Linked DNA regions of Homo sapiens. The protein of the gene in region 2 purifies or fractionates together with the protein of the main gene of each other region. This does not show direct contact. Each region holds a gene or a part of one and is shown on either strand. Other genes may lie near its edges.

Evidence for each region.
Region 1: the proteins of PDS5B (region 2) and SMC1A purify together in Homo sapiens (affinity purification with western blotting; 8 studies listed by BioGRID and IntAct, with this or other methods). This does not show direct contact.

The regions. Positions count from the first base shown.
Region 1 is NC_000023.11:53,373,455-53,377,761, forward strand, and holds the end of SMC1A (structural maintenance of chromosomes protein 1A), read right to left. Parts: 3' UTR 695-4,307; downstream 1-694. UniProt on the Homo sapiens protein: Involved in chromosome cohesion during cell cycle and in DNA repair. Central component of cohesin complex. The cohesin complex is required for the cohesion of sister chromatids after DNA replication.
Region 2 is NC_000013.11:32,771,154-32,778,454, forward strand, and holds the end of PDS5B (sister chromatid cohesion protein PDS5 homolog B), read left to right. Parts: intron 1-2,035; coding exon 2,036-2,171; intron 2,172-3,863; coding exon 3,864-3,899; 3' UTR 3,900-6,866; downstream 6,867-7,301. UniProt on the Homo sapiens protein: Regulator of sister chromatid cohesion in mitosis which may stabilize cohesin complex association with chromatin. May couple sister chromatid cohesion during mitosis to DNA replication.

The DNA.
Region 1 (4,307 bases), on a different chromosome or scaffold from region 2:
CCCCCTGAAATCCATGCACTTTCACCCTCTTGATTTAACTGTGCTTAGGCAGCTCCTCTGCTTGGAATGTTTTTTCCTCCCTTTCCAAGTGGTAAGCACTCATTCCTCTTTCAAGACTCAGTTCAAGTGTACCATCCTCTATAAAGGCTTTCCCACCCCAGGGAGAACCACCTAATACTTCCTATATGCTCACTTTGCCTCACCTAGACGTCCATTATATCATCTTCCACACTTAGTGTGCTTAACCACTTACTTATCTGAGTTCCCAATTAAGCCAAGAATTCCTGGAGGGCATGTATATCTAATTCCCAGAACCTAGCACAGGGCCTGACACATGACAGGAATTTAACATATGCCTGCTGAACAAATGGATGGAAAAATGATGCATGAGTGAATACAGGAAAGAGCAAATGAACTGGTAAATGCTTACATTAATGCATTAATGAATAAGTGAGTGAAGTTGTGAGTTAGTGCATATATAAGGTAATAAATAAATGAGTGGATGAATGAATGATAAAAATAAGTAAGTGAATGAAAGGTGCCCATGCCAGTGAGGCAGGAAAGGATGAGTGAATTCCCACCTCTGTGTCTTGCTTCAACCCCACCAGGAAGACCTCTTGCCCTGCTTTCCTGTTATCTAAACTGCACACCAGTGTTAACCTTTTAGATTCCAAGGAACAAAGACACACACAGGTTAGTGATGGGGATTTATTAAAGCATTCACAGGGAAATAAGGAAGACAAGAACAGCTACACAGGCAGCCTCATGGAAGAACAGAAACTTGAAAATGGTTCATGATCCAAAGCAGCTCTAGAGCCTGGCTTATCTTGTCACCCCCTCAGCTGCAGGCATCTGTTGCTCCCTTCTCTAGTGCTTCCCAAATTGGTGACTCAACTCCTTTCTGGCTGTATTTATACTCCTCCTACTGCTACTGACTAACTTCTTTCTGCCCCCCTCGATGCTAGCCCATGGCTTTTTCTGCCTCATGGGTCCTGCAGCTTCATGGCTCCCGGCGCTTCAGTTCCTATTAATCCATGGCTTTTCTGCATTGTAGCTCCTGCTGCCTCTTCCATTCCTGTTGCCATGTTGCCACATGGTTCTGGCTACCTTGTGGTTCTTGCAGTCTCATCGCTTCTACTGTCTCATGATCTTATCTATTCAAGCCTTCTGCTGCTTTGTGGATCTCATAGTCAGTTTTGTCTCACGGTTTCTGTTCCTCGTGGCTCCTATTGCTTCATGGCTTCTAGCCCATTGTTGCCTTGCTGCTTCATGGCTTCTGCCACCCTGTGGCTCCGTGATCTCATTATACAAATGTCTCATGACCTCTGCTTACTTATGGTTTCTGCAGCTTTCTCTTTGCTTTTGCTGTTTAGTTTCTGGCCACCCCTCATCCACCACCACTAATGCCTCATTAAATTCTAATTAACGTTCACTTCTTCTGAATAGCTCACATTCTGCCTCCCTGAAAGATCTGGTTGTTTCATACATTTGCCATTTGATACATGCCACCCCTGTAAGGTGAAGTCCTTATGCCAGTCCAGCTAACAGGCCACTGGCCAGCCTAGAGATTGGTTGCCCTTGAACCAGACACTATCCACATCTAGCTATCTGTGGCCAGGATTGTGAGGTCACATGGTACAGAGCATGGCAACTTATGCTAAGGAAACCCCTTAGAAGGGACTGCAAGCATGGCAGGTTTGCTAAGGGTTTCCAGAAGGGGGCAGTGTAATTGGCAACCATCTTGTTTGACCTGTCCAATACATTGACCTTCAAGGTTCAACCTAAGTCCCACCTTCTCCCTGACCACCTCTGCCTGTCCTGATCTACAATGGGATAGATCAAGATCAAGACTCCAGAGATGACATAGAAAGGAAACCTAGCTTCCATTTCTGGCTCCAACACTTCCTAGCAGTCGGACCTTAGGAAGTTAATTCCCCTCTGAGGACCTCAGAAGGGGTTTGGGCAGTCTTCCCTTACAAGTCTGACATTCTGGGTATCTCACTATAAGTTATTGTATAAGAGATGTGACTCTTACCTGGGAAAGCCCTCAAAAACATCTCTTGAGGTAGGAAAGAGGGAGTCAGAGTCCTGGCTTGGAAGAGCCTTACTGCACACTGGAGGTGCTTAGCCAAGATTTATTGAACTGGATGAATGAATCAATGGCTTGTGGAGGGGTGGGGAGTGGGGGGGCAGTGAGAGACCACACAGCACACAGAATGTCTAACTAACTTGAGGAATTCCAGTTGCTGAGGAGGATGTAAGCAGATTGTTTCAGAGATGGATAAGGAAAGAGATGACTGGGACAGGGTAGGAATCATGGCTATTCATGGGTACTCATTCTATCCTCTCAGTCACCCTCCACATCCAATAATCAGTCATTAAGTTATCATCTTACCTTAACAGTTCACACCTTAACACCTCCAATCTATTCCTACTGGCCTTTGCCCTAGTGCAGGCCTCCTGGTCTTTTTCCAGTCTCCTAGCTAATCTTGTCATCTCCATTCGCTCTCTCACAAATGGATTCACTCATGCATTCATTCATTCAAAAACTTTACTGGGTGCCTGTTTTGTGTCAGGCACTGTGCTTTTTTGCAGGGGCTATACTGGTAAGCAAAATATCCCCAGGCCCACCCTTGTGGTGCCTAAAGCTTATTCAGAGACAAAATAAGCAAATATAGTAGTGTAAGAAGCTGATTAACAGGGAAGCTACAGGCACGGGCACATACAGCATGAACATCTAACCTAATCTGTTTTCCATGCTGGTTGGCTAGCCAGCCAGAAACAGGTTAAGTTCACATCTGATCTGGAGTCCCCCTATTAAAAACCATTTCATGGCTCCCTCACTGCCTTCAAGCTATGGTTTCCAAATCTGGCTGTACCCTAGTCATGTGGTAACCTTTATAAGCATTCAAGATTCCAAATCTTCACCCCAGACTTAATGAATGTTTTAGGGGCCGGGGCCCAGAATGCCGTACCTGTTTGTGGTATACAGCCAGTTTGGGAACCACACTGTCCTACAAAACAAATCTGAATTCTGTAGCCATGCATTTACGACCCTCTTCCAATCTGGTTCCTCTCTACCTTTTCTTGCTGCTTTCCCCCCACCCCAGGAATCTTCATGCTTCAGTATTTGTTTTGCTGTTTCTTGCCTTCATGTCTTCATGCATACTGTTTCCAATATCTGGAAATTCCTTCTACTTCCTCAACTGGCTAATTCCTACCCGTCCCTCAAGACTCAGTTCAGGTATCACCACCTAGACTACAGGATGCCTTCTCTGAATCTTCACATAAGCTAGATGTTTTTCCTGTGCTCCTGTCAGTGTTGATCACACTGTATGGTTAATGGCTGTTTTACAAATGGTTTCCCCAACTAAACAGTGAGCTCCTCAAAGGCAGGATAAAGATTTGACTCATCTTTGTGTTCCTGGTGCACAACACTGTGATTTCCAGAGGGAAGTGCCCAGTTAAACTTAAGATACTGTTGTGGAGTACTCTTCAACTCCCTACAGCAAGGCTACTGCGTCCACAGTATAAGGGAGTCAAACTAGTTCCTCCAACAAGCCCTAGGGAATCTACTCGGATCCAGCTTGCTCTTGGAAACACTGTGGTGCCCAGCCTCCCGTGAGCATAGCCTTGACAACGGTTGCCCTGTGATGCCAGGAGGTGGTGGGGCACGACAGGAGAGAGCAGGGGGCAAGCACTAAATAGATCCGAGTGGAAGTCTAGGCTCTGCCACTAAACCAGTGGAATCTTGGACAAGTCACCTCACCTCCTGGATCCTCAGGACTTAAGTCCCCAAAGCTCCTTTGTAGCACATGTGTTCCTGTGTGCCAGGGCCTTAGCCTAAGGCATCTCATGTAATCCTTTTTATCCTGTGAGGTAGGGGTTAGTTATCTGGGTTATTATCCATGCTGGCTGAATCAGATTTCCAGAGGTGGGACCAGAGCAATTTATTTTTAAAGAGCTCCACATCCTTTGGATGTGGGGGTGCAAGCAGGGAACTGCTGCTTCTCATTATAAGCCCTTCTGTACTATTTTATTTTTTTACCTGTGTATATATTGCTTTACTTTTTAAAAAGGAAAAAGAAAAAGCTTTACAAACGATTCTGATGCGCAGCCAAGGTTGATAACCACCTGTACAGTGGAGAAAGCACTTGAATGACTTGGAAGACCTGGGTTCAAACCTTTTTGGGCCTCAGTTTCCTTATCTGTAAAGTGGGGAGAACAGCAAAGGTGACCTTTAAAGGGCTGTGAATGATCTAGATGCCAGCCAAATTGCTTCATATATATTTAATTTTCTCTTTGCT
Region 2 (7,301 bases):
TCTGCTTTTATTCTTTGAACTTGTAGTAGGAAAGTAACAGGTACCATTTTTTAAAAATTATATCCATAGAAATTAACACATGTTGGTCTCAAGTGTTTGATATCTTGATTTTGTTTGTTTTCTAACCCAGTTCATTTATCTACATCAACATGTATATAGTTTTAGATGTTCACACAAACACATTTATAAGAGAGGTACAGTAAGAATCTGTACCTCAAATTTTAGTGTCACCAGAGTATCACTGCTGTAATTTGCAGATCTGACAGTGTTTTTTCTCCTTAGTTATGTGAGTGGAAATAGAGTAGCATGTCTTCTATTAGTCAGAAATTTAACACTTTTTCTGAGAGTAATCCCACCCATACATAATTACATCATGGCTCGACTTTTCAGAGTTGCCAATGTACTGTCATTAAATACTCAATTATCTTAGAGATTTTCCTATTCCTGTGTATTCCACAGGAAGAGGAAAAGTTGCCTGGGTGTCTAGCCAGTACTTCATGCCATCTTCCATGTAATTTTTCTATCAGGTTAAAAGTAAAGGTAAGTACATTTTTGTGGCAGCTTTATAAATGTGTTTGGATTCAACCAAATCACTATTTCTAAACAAAGGATTCTTAAGGAATCCTTTATTTAATAAAATACACATGAATGATGTAACAAGGAAATAACAAACCTCATAATTTTAGTTTGTTTATATTTGGACATCATAAAATTCAGGGTTTAAATGATTATTGTGCTCTCCTAAAATTACACAAGTCCTATGAATGTTCTAAACCAAACAAGTATTTCTTAAAAAAAAAAAAAAATTGATATGGAAGAAGATTCTGTAGTCTGTCTTGGAAGCCTATCTTCCTTTCACTGGGAAGCTCTTTCTAGAGCTAGTATACTAACATATGTTAGGATTTGTTTCTTTTTCTTGTTCTGACCTCAGTGAAATTGAAAAAGATTGTCATTATGTTTCATGTTATTTCTATAGTTTCATTAATCTCGAAAAACCAAACCAAGTAAAAAAATTGTTTGGTTCGAGCGTGAGTTAAAAAAATACATATTTTGGATTGCTTATAGAAGTGATGTTATGTTTCTAATTTTAAAAAATAAAGATTTATCAAGAGGGATCCATTTGATTAGATGGTTCTATTACATATTTTTTGATGCCTCCTGTGTTTCAGAGAGTACTAGGTGCTAGGGACACAAAACAGACGTGGTACTTGTTTTCATGGGCTCGTGGTTCTTGTTTTCCACCATCTAATGGAGTGAGGAAGTTTTTTCTTTAAAAGTAACAATGAGTTGATATCTTGAGAATAGTAGGGGCTAGACAGGCAGAGAACAGGTGGCATGAACACTATATTTGAAGTTTCTGAAGTGAAAAATAACTTGGCAAAATCAGAAAGCTAAAGGAAGGCAAGGGTTTGTTGGATTGTAGTTGTGGGGAGTTGGGGAGCAGAAAGAGATGAGAGTGGACAGGTAGGCAAGGACCATCTACTGTTCCTTGTATACTTTGTTAAGGAGGTTTACAAAATTATTCTCAGCTCAGTAGGGAGCAGTAACATCATCTGTTCTTGTACTTTTAAAAGATAACTTTGTAAAGAGAAGAGGCAAGAGATGGGAATGGTTTGAATTAGGTGGTAGCAATGGAGATGTGGAGAGAAGTGAATGGATTTGAGATCTCCATAAGAATCTATAAGGCCAGACAAAGACAGGTACACTATATTCAAAGCAGAATTCCTTTCTGCTTTGAGCAGCTCAGTAGACATAGATGCCTTTTACTGTGTTAGGAAAGATGAAAGGAAGAGCAGACTTTAGGTTATGGTATGTTCTCAGTCACATTTTTTTGTTGTTACTTGGTAGATAATATGTAACATTCTATGATTAAATGCTGGTTTAGGATTCAGAATATTAAAGAAATGTTCTTGTCTCATAAAGTAACTGAGGGTAAAGATGATATGACGATGAAATACGTGAAACATTTCTTCTAACGAGGTAATCTACTGAAAGATTGGAACGTTCATTGTGTTTTACATGTGTTTTACTCTAGCCGTGTAGGACGCTCCAAACAAGCAGCTACTAAGGAAAATGATTCAAGTGAAGAAGTAGATGTGTTTCAGGGTAGCTCTCCTGTCGATGATATTCCACAGGAAGAAACAGAGGAGGAGGAAGTTTCTACAGTAAATGTATGTGTTCAAAGTTTCTGTGAGTGGTGTGGGATATAAAAAGAGTTAGTAAATGTTTGGTTAGATCATTTAGTACTTGTTTAGTATTTATATGTTTTACTTCATTAGTTCATAGCATCATTTTATCTACCAGGTTGGATAATGGAGAACATCTTTTATGGAAACCCGAAACTAAGCAAATAGGTGTAGCTTAATGAGAATGTAAATGTCAAGTCTGAACTGAATGTACAGCATTCTAATATTGACACTTTAAGCATGTAAGTTGTACCTTGATTTTAGGGCACTGATACCCATTAAGTATACTGTTGTTTATATTTTACAACTCTCCGTTTGGTATTTCTATTTGGGTTTCATAATAGAAATTAGAAGTTAGTTACACAGAATAAAATCAGCCTTTGGAATTGAAGTTTGAGCTGAATGAGAATTCATAAAATTGGTAATACATACTTATTTTGCAAAAGTAGGTATGTGTTACTTCCTGACTTTTTTGTTTTTGAGACAGAGTCTCACTCTGTCACCCAGGCTGGAGTATAGTGGCGCACGATCTGGGCTCAGTGCAACCTCTGCCTCCCAGATTCAAGCAATTCTCCTGCCTCAGCTTCCCAAGTAGCTGAGATTACAGGCCAATGCCACTGTGCCCGACTAGTTTTTGTATTTTTAGTGCAGACAGGGTTTTACCATGTTGGTCAGGCTGGTCTCGAACTCTTGACCTCAAGTGATCTGCCTGCTTTGGCCTCCAAAGTGGTGGGATTACAGGCATCAGCCACTGCACCCGGCCCTTCTTGACTTTTAAAGTAATAAATAAATAACTTTACCAGTTAATACAACTCAGATATTTCTCTTAGGAAAAAACATAATACATTTAAGTAGAAGCTCTTCTCCTATCTTTGTTTGAGAAACCCAAGCTCTATAATCAAGTCTCAGAATTGGTCTCTGCTGTTCTGTCCTGTTTAATGGAATCAGAACTCCTATCTGTACCAGGATTCATATTTGTGAATAAGCGAGTTAAGTACACAGGAAAATATGCATAATTGTGACCTCAAATTAGTTTGGCTTGTTTCTTAAAGGGTTTTGGGGAGGACATCAAAGTAAGTCTGAAGAGTCAGTAACGATTGATGTCTTCATCAGAGAAAAACTACATGTAAATTAAAACCCTCTTTTATATTCCTATTGTTAATATTGACATTTTTTGAACTAAAGTTTTATGCTTTCATTAGTGCTTGTCAGCAAATGATAATATGTTTGAATTTTAGGTTATTTTACTGTATTGATAATTGTTAAGATCCAAACTCAGTAACTGCTTTCCCAGAAAGATAATGTAAGTTCATAAATGTGAAATGTTTTCATTTACCACAGGAAACATAAGTAGAAAGATGATTAATCTGTTTGAGTTATTTTTCTTGCTGTAGACATTGACTTCTGTTCATTTCTCTTTAAAATTATTAGATAGAAAAGTAAAATAATTTTTTTCTTTCACTGTTCTGGGGAAGTCTGTGAGCCTGTAAGGGATCAAATGTTATAGAGGTCTAAATATGTGATGCCAGGGCAGAAAGTAAGGATAAAAAGTTTCAGGGAAAGGAAAGCAAAGAAAATCAGGAACAAATGAGAATAAAGATTAGTTAAAAATGATTACTGCATATCTTATGCACATATACCCATTTTAATTAAGCATCTGGTGACTTTCCTTTTAAGGTACGGCGGCGAAGTGCTAAAAGGGAACGGCGATGAACAAATGTAATTAATAACTTTCTCTGTGAAAGCTTTGGAAAAATCTTTTTTTTTTTTTTTGGTCAAGCTTGAGGCTGAATAAAGCCTTTGATGCACAAAATGGGACTGCTGAAGAGTGGACAGTTGGACCTTACTTTGGTGACCCCATACATTTGTGGTCACATGCTTTAGCCATACACATGGTAACATTGACTATGGAGTCTTGTGAAAGTGTAATGTGCGATGGCTATGTAGACATAAAGAAGAAACTTGTAAATATCTTTTTTCTTTTTTTTAATGTTTCTGATTTCTGAAGTGCTTGTATAGCTTTTATCTGCGGCTTTAAACTGACAGTACCCGACTGTTTATTGGATCTATTGATTTGAAAAGAATTTGTTAGGATAGATCTTAAGCAGTAATCTGTCAGTGTTTGTATTTGTATTCTCTGCAATTTTACTGTGAAAAAAAATTTGTTTTCAACAATTGGTGTCATTTTCTTGATGTCACTATTTGTTGGAGAGTTAAATGGTCTCTTCCCTTTGTGTATCTTACCTAGTGTTTACTCCTGGGCACCCTTAATCTTCAGAGGTGCTAAATTGTCTGCCATTACACCAGAAGGATGCCTCTGATAGGAGGACAACCATGCAAATTGTGAAATAGTCCTGAAGTTCTTGGATTACTTTACACCTCAGTATTGATTTGTCCCAGAATTTTCTGGCCTTTCATGGCAATGAAAATTTTAAGAAGAAAGATTTAAAGTATTTTAATTTTAAAGAGTGTGTTATAAAATAATGTACTGAATTCTTTATCCCATTTTATCATCCTTTCAGTTTTTATTAATCTACTGTATCAATAAAATTCTGTAATTTGAATGAGTTTTTAATAGTCTAGAATGTTATTGTGTATAGATATTTCCTCTTGAACGTTATGTTCAGAAAATGCAAATTACACTATAATATAAAACCTGATATATACACATTAGAAATATTCCAGTTCTCCGTAACAGTGTAAAGTTAATCAGAAAGAAAAAATTTTATTGATGCAGTGTGTCTTTATAAAGCTGTTCTTGAAAGCCAAGTGTTTTGTATTTTATAGTGAGTTGCATGTTTTTGAAAAAAAGTGCTGAAAATGGGATGTGCTGTTTTCTGTAAATTCATATTTAGCCATAGTATATGATAGATTGCCCCATAACATAGTTTTTCATCAAGAGTTTATTATTGTACTTTATTTTGGAGCCAAAAAATTGATTCTGGGGGGTGGGGGCAGCGTAGAAGTGGTATATCCAAGTATATCAGCTACTGTAGTTGTCACAGTCTTGTGAACTTTGAATGAAATTCCACTTTGTCCAGATTGGGAGAAGTGGAAATTTATTTGGATTTAGAGCAGGTCTTTTTTTTTCTTCATTGTAATCTGCAAAATGTAGAAATAAATTACTTAAGGCAGTATCCTTTATACAGTTGTATAAACTGTATTTTGAACCAAAACATATAGGTTACTACTTAATGCTTACCTAATTTCATTTTAGTATTTTAGGTGCTGTTATGTTTTTTCATGGTTAACACCAGAGGGGAAAAAATCATATTCTAACTTATTAAATTTATCACATTGAATAGTGGAACATTTTCATATGATACACCATTATGTTTAAGATATATTTCCAAGATTGGTTATAATAGATGGGGCATATAATAAAGAAGCTACTATTTTGGAAAATGACATTTTACTATTTGCCAATGTATATTGCAATTGATGTGATTATTTTTCTTTTAAAGATTTGTTTGTGTTTATGAAACAGCCATTTATTTTTTAAAAAGTGTTTTGAATTGTGTCTTAATCTCTCCATATTCAACTATTCTTCATTTACAACAATAGTGACACCAGTAATTATGAGAGGCTGTCATATATCAAAGCAGCTCAGGTGGGATCAACATACATTGGTTTTGAAATGTTTCCTTAGCTCGGTTCTCCCAAACACATAATTTCTGTTTCAGCAGTACAAAGGCATGTTTTAAAATCTATAACATAAAGAATAAGGAATAGCTTTGTATTTTTGTCATTGATTAAATTGCACCAGAAATGTTTATGGAAATATTAAGAACATTTTATAAAACATACGAAAAAGTGATTGTGAAGGATTTTTATTTGCATGATTATAGTTAAGCAAATTTCATTTCACATTTTTGTAATGCTGTACAGCAGTTCACAAAAAAATGTTCATTGTAGATTTTGTTATGTTCAATGCCAATGAGTCTGTAATTTTACGACCTGTCTGTTCTTTTTTTGGGTGGATTACGATGTAAATTTTTCTTTTCTTTCTTTCTTTTTTTTTTTTTTTGTGTAGAAAAATAGGTGCAATAATGATCAAAGTTTTGATGTCTTGAGTCTCCATCTTAGGGGATTATCTTACGTTTAAGCTTAACATTTCATGTAGTAAGATTTGGAGAGCCACATACTTTACAGTAAAATTAAGTGTGTATAAAACATTAATTGCTAACAATTGTTAGCAAACTATTTCAGTGATAATGTTCATTTTGAAAATATGTACTGTATAACATTAAGAAAATATTTAACTCCCTGTAACAAGTTCCATTATGAAAATCTTATTCCTCAGTGAGGTTATCTTGCTGCACTCTGTAGCAAATTTGTTTAATCTACATTATAATAAAATTTCTTGCTGCAGTGCAACAGGAGGCTTTTTCAGTGATCTTCACTGTATATGTAAATTACAAATGTGGCTGTAAAACTTATTCCAGGTATTAAAGGTTAAATTGCTTTCTATATCTTCTTATAACTTGTAAGTCTGATTTTTAAGATTTCCTTTTGTCCACTTGTAAGAATGTCAGGAATTTAAGAATTTGTTTAAATTAGGCATATCTCTGCCATCACATAGTATTATGTCACCATAATGAACAATTGCTATTTAAATAGATAACCAATTTTCAGACACATTTTTGGATTTCTGTGAAGTTGAATAAACATAAAAGCTAATACAGTTGTATTATTTTGTGTATGTAAATCAACATATATATTTAAATACTAAATGGAGAAAGGCACATTTGATGATTTTTAATTTTGGAGCCTTTGTTTCATGAAGTGGAAACACGTCTCAGTAACTTTTTCCAAACCTTTTGTTTAAACTTCTCATGCAAAATGTTGGCGGACAGAGAATTCTAAGTATTATTTAAGTTGAATAATTGCGTAACTGAACAAAATAAATGTATAATATAAACTTTAAAAATAAGCACTAAATAAATAAGTTGCCAGTAGCAGTTTTATTAATTCGTTCAGCAAACATTTATTGAGTGCCTTCTATGTGCCAGGCACTCAAAAATTTTACTCAGTTTTGCAGAGGATAAAGTGTGATCAAGATAGTGTAAGTCCCTGCTTTTGTGGTACTTTCATTATGTTAGAGGTGGGTGAATA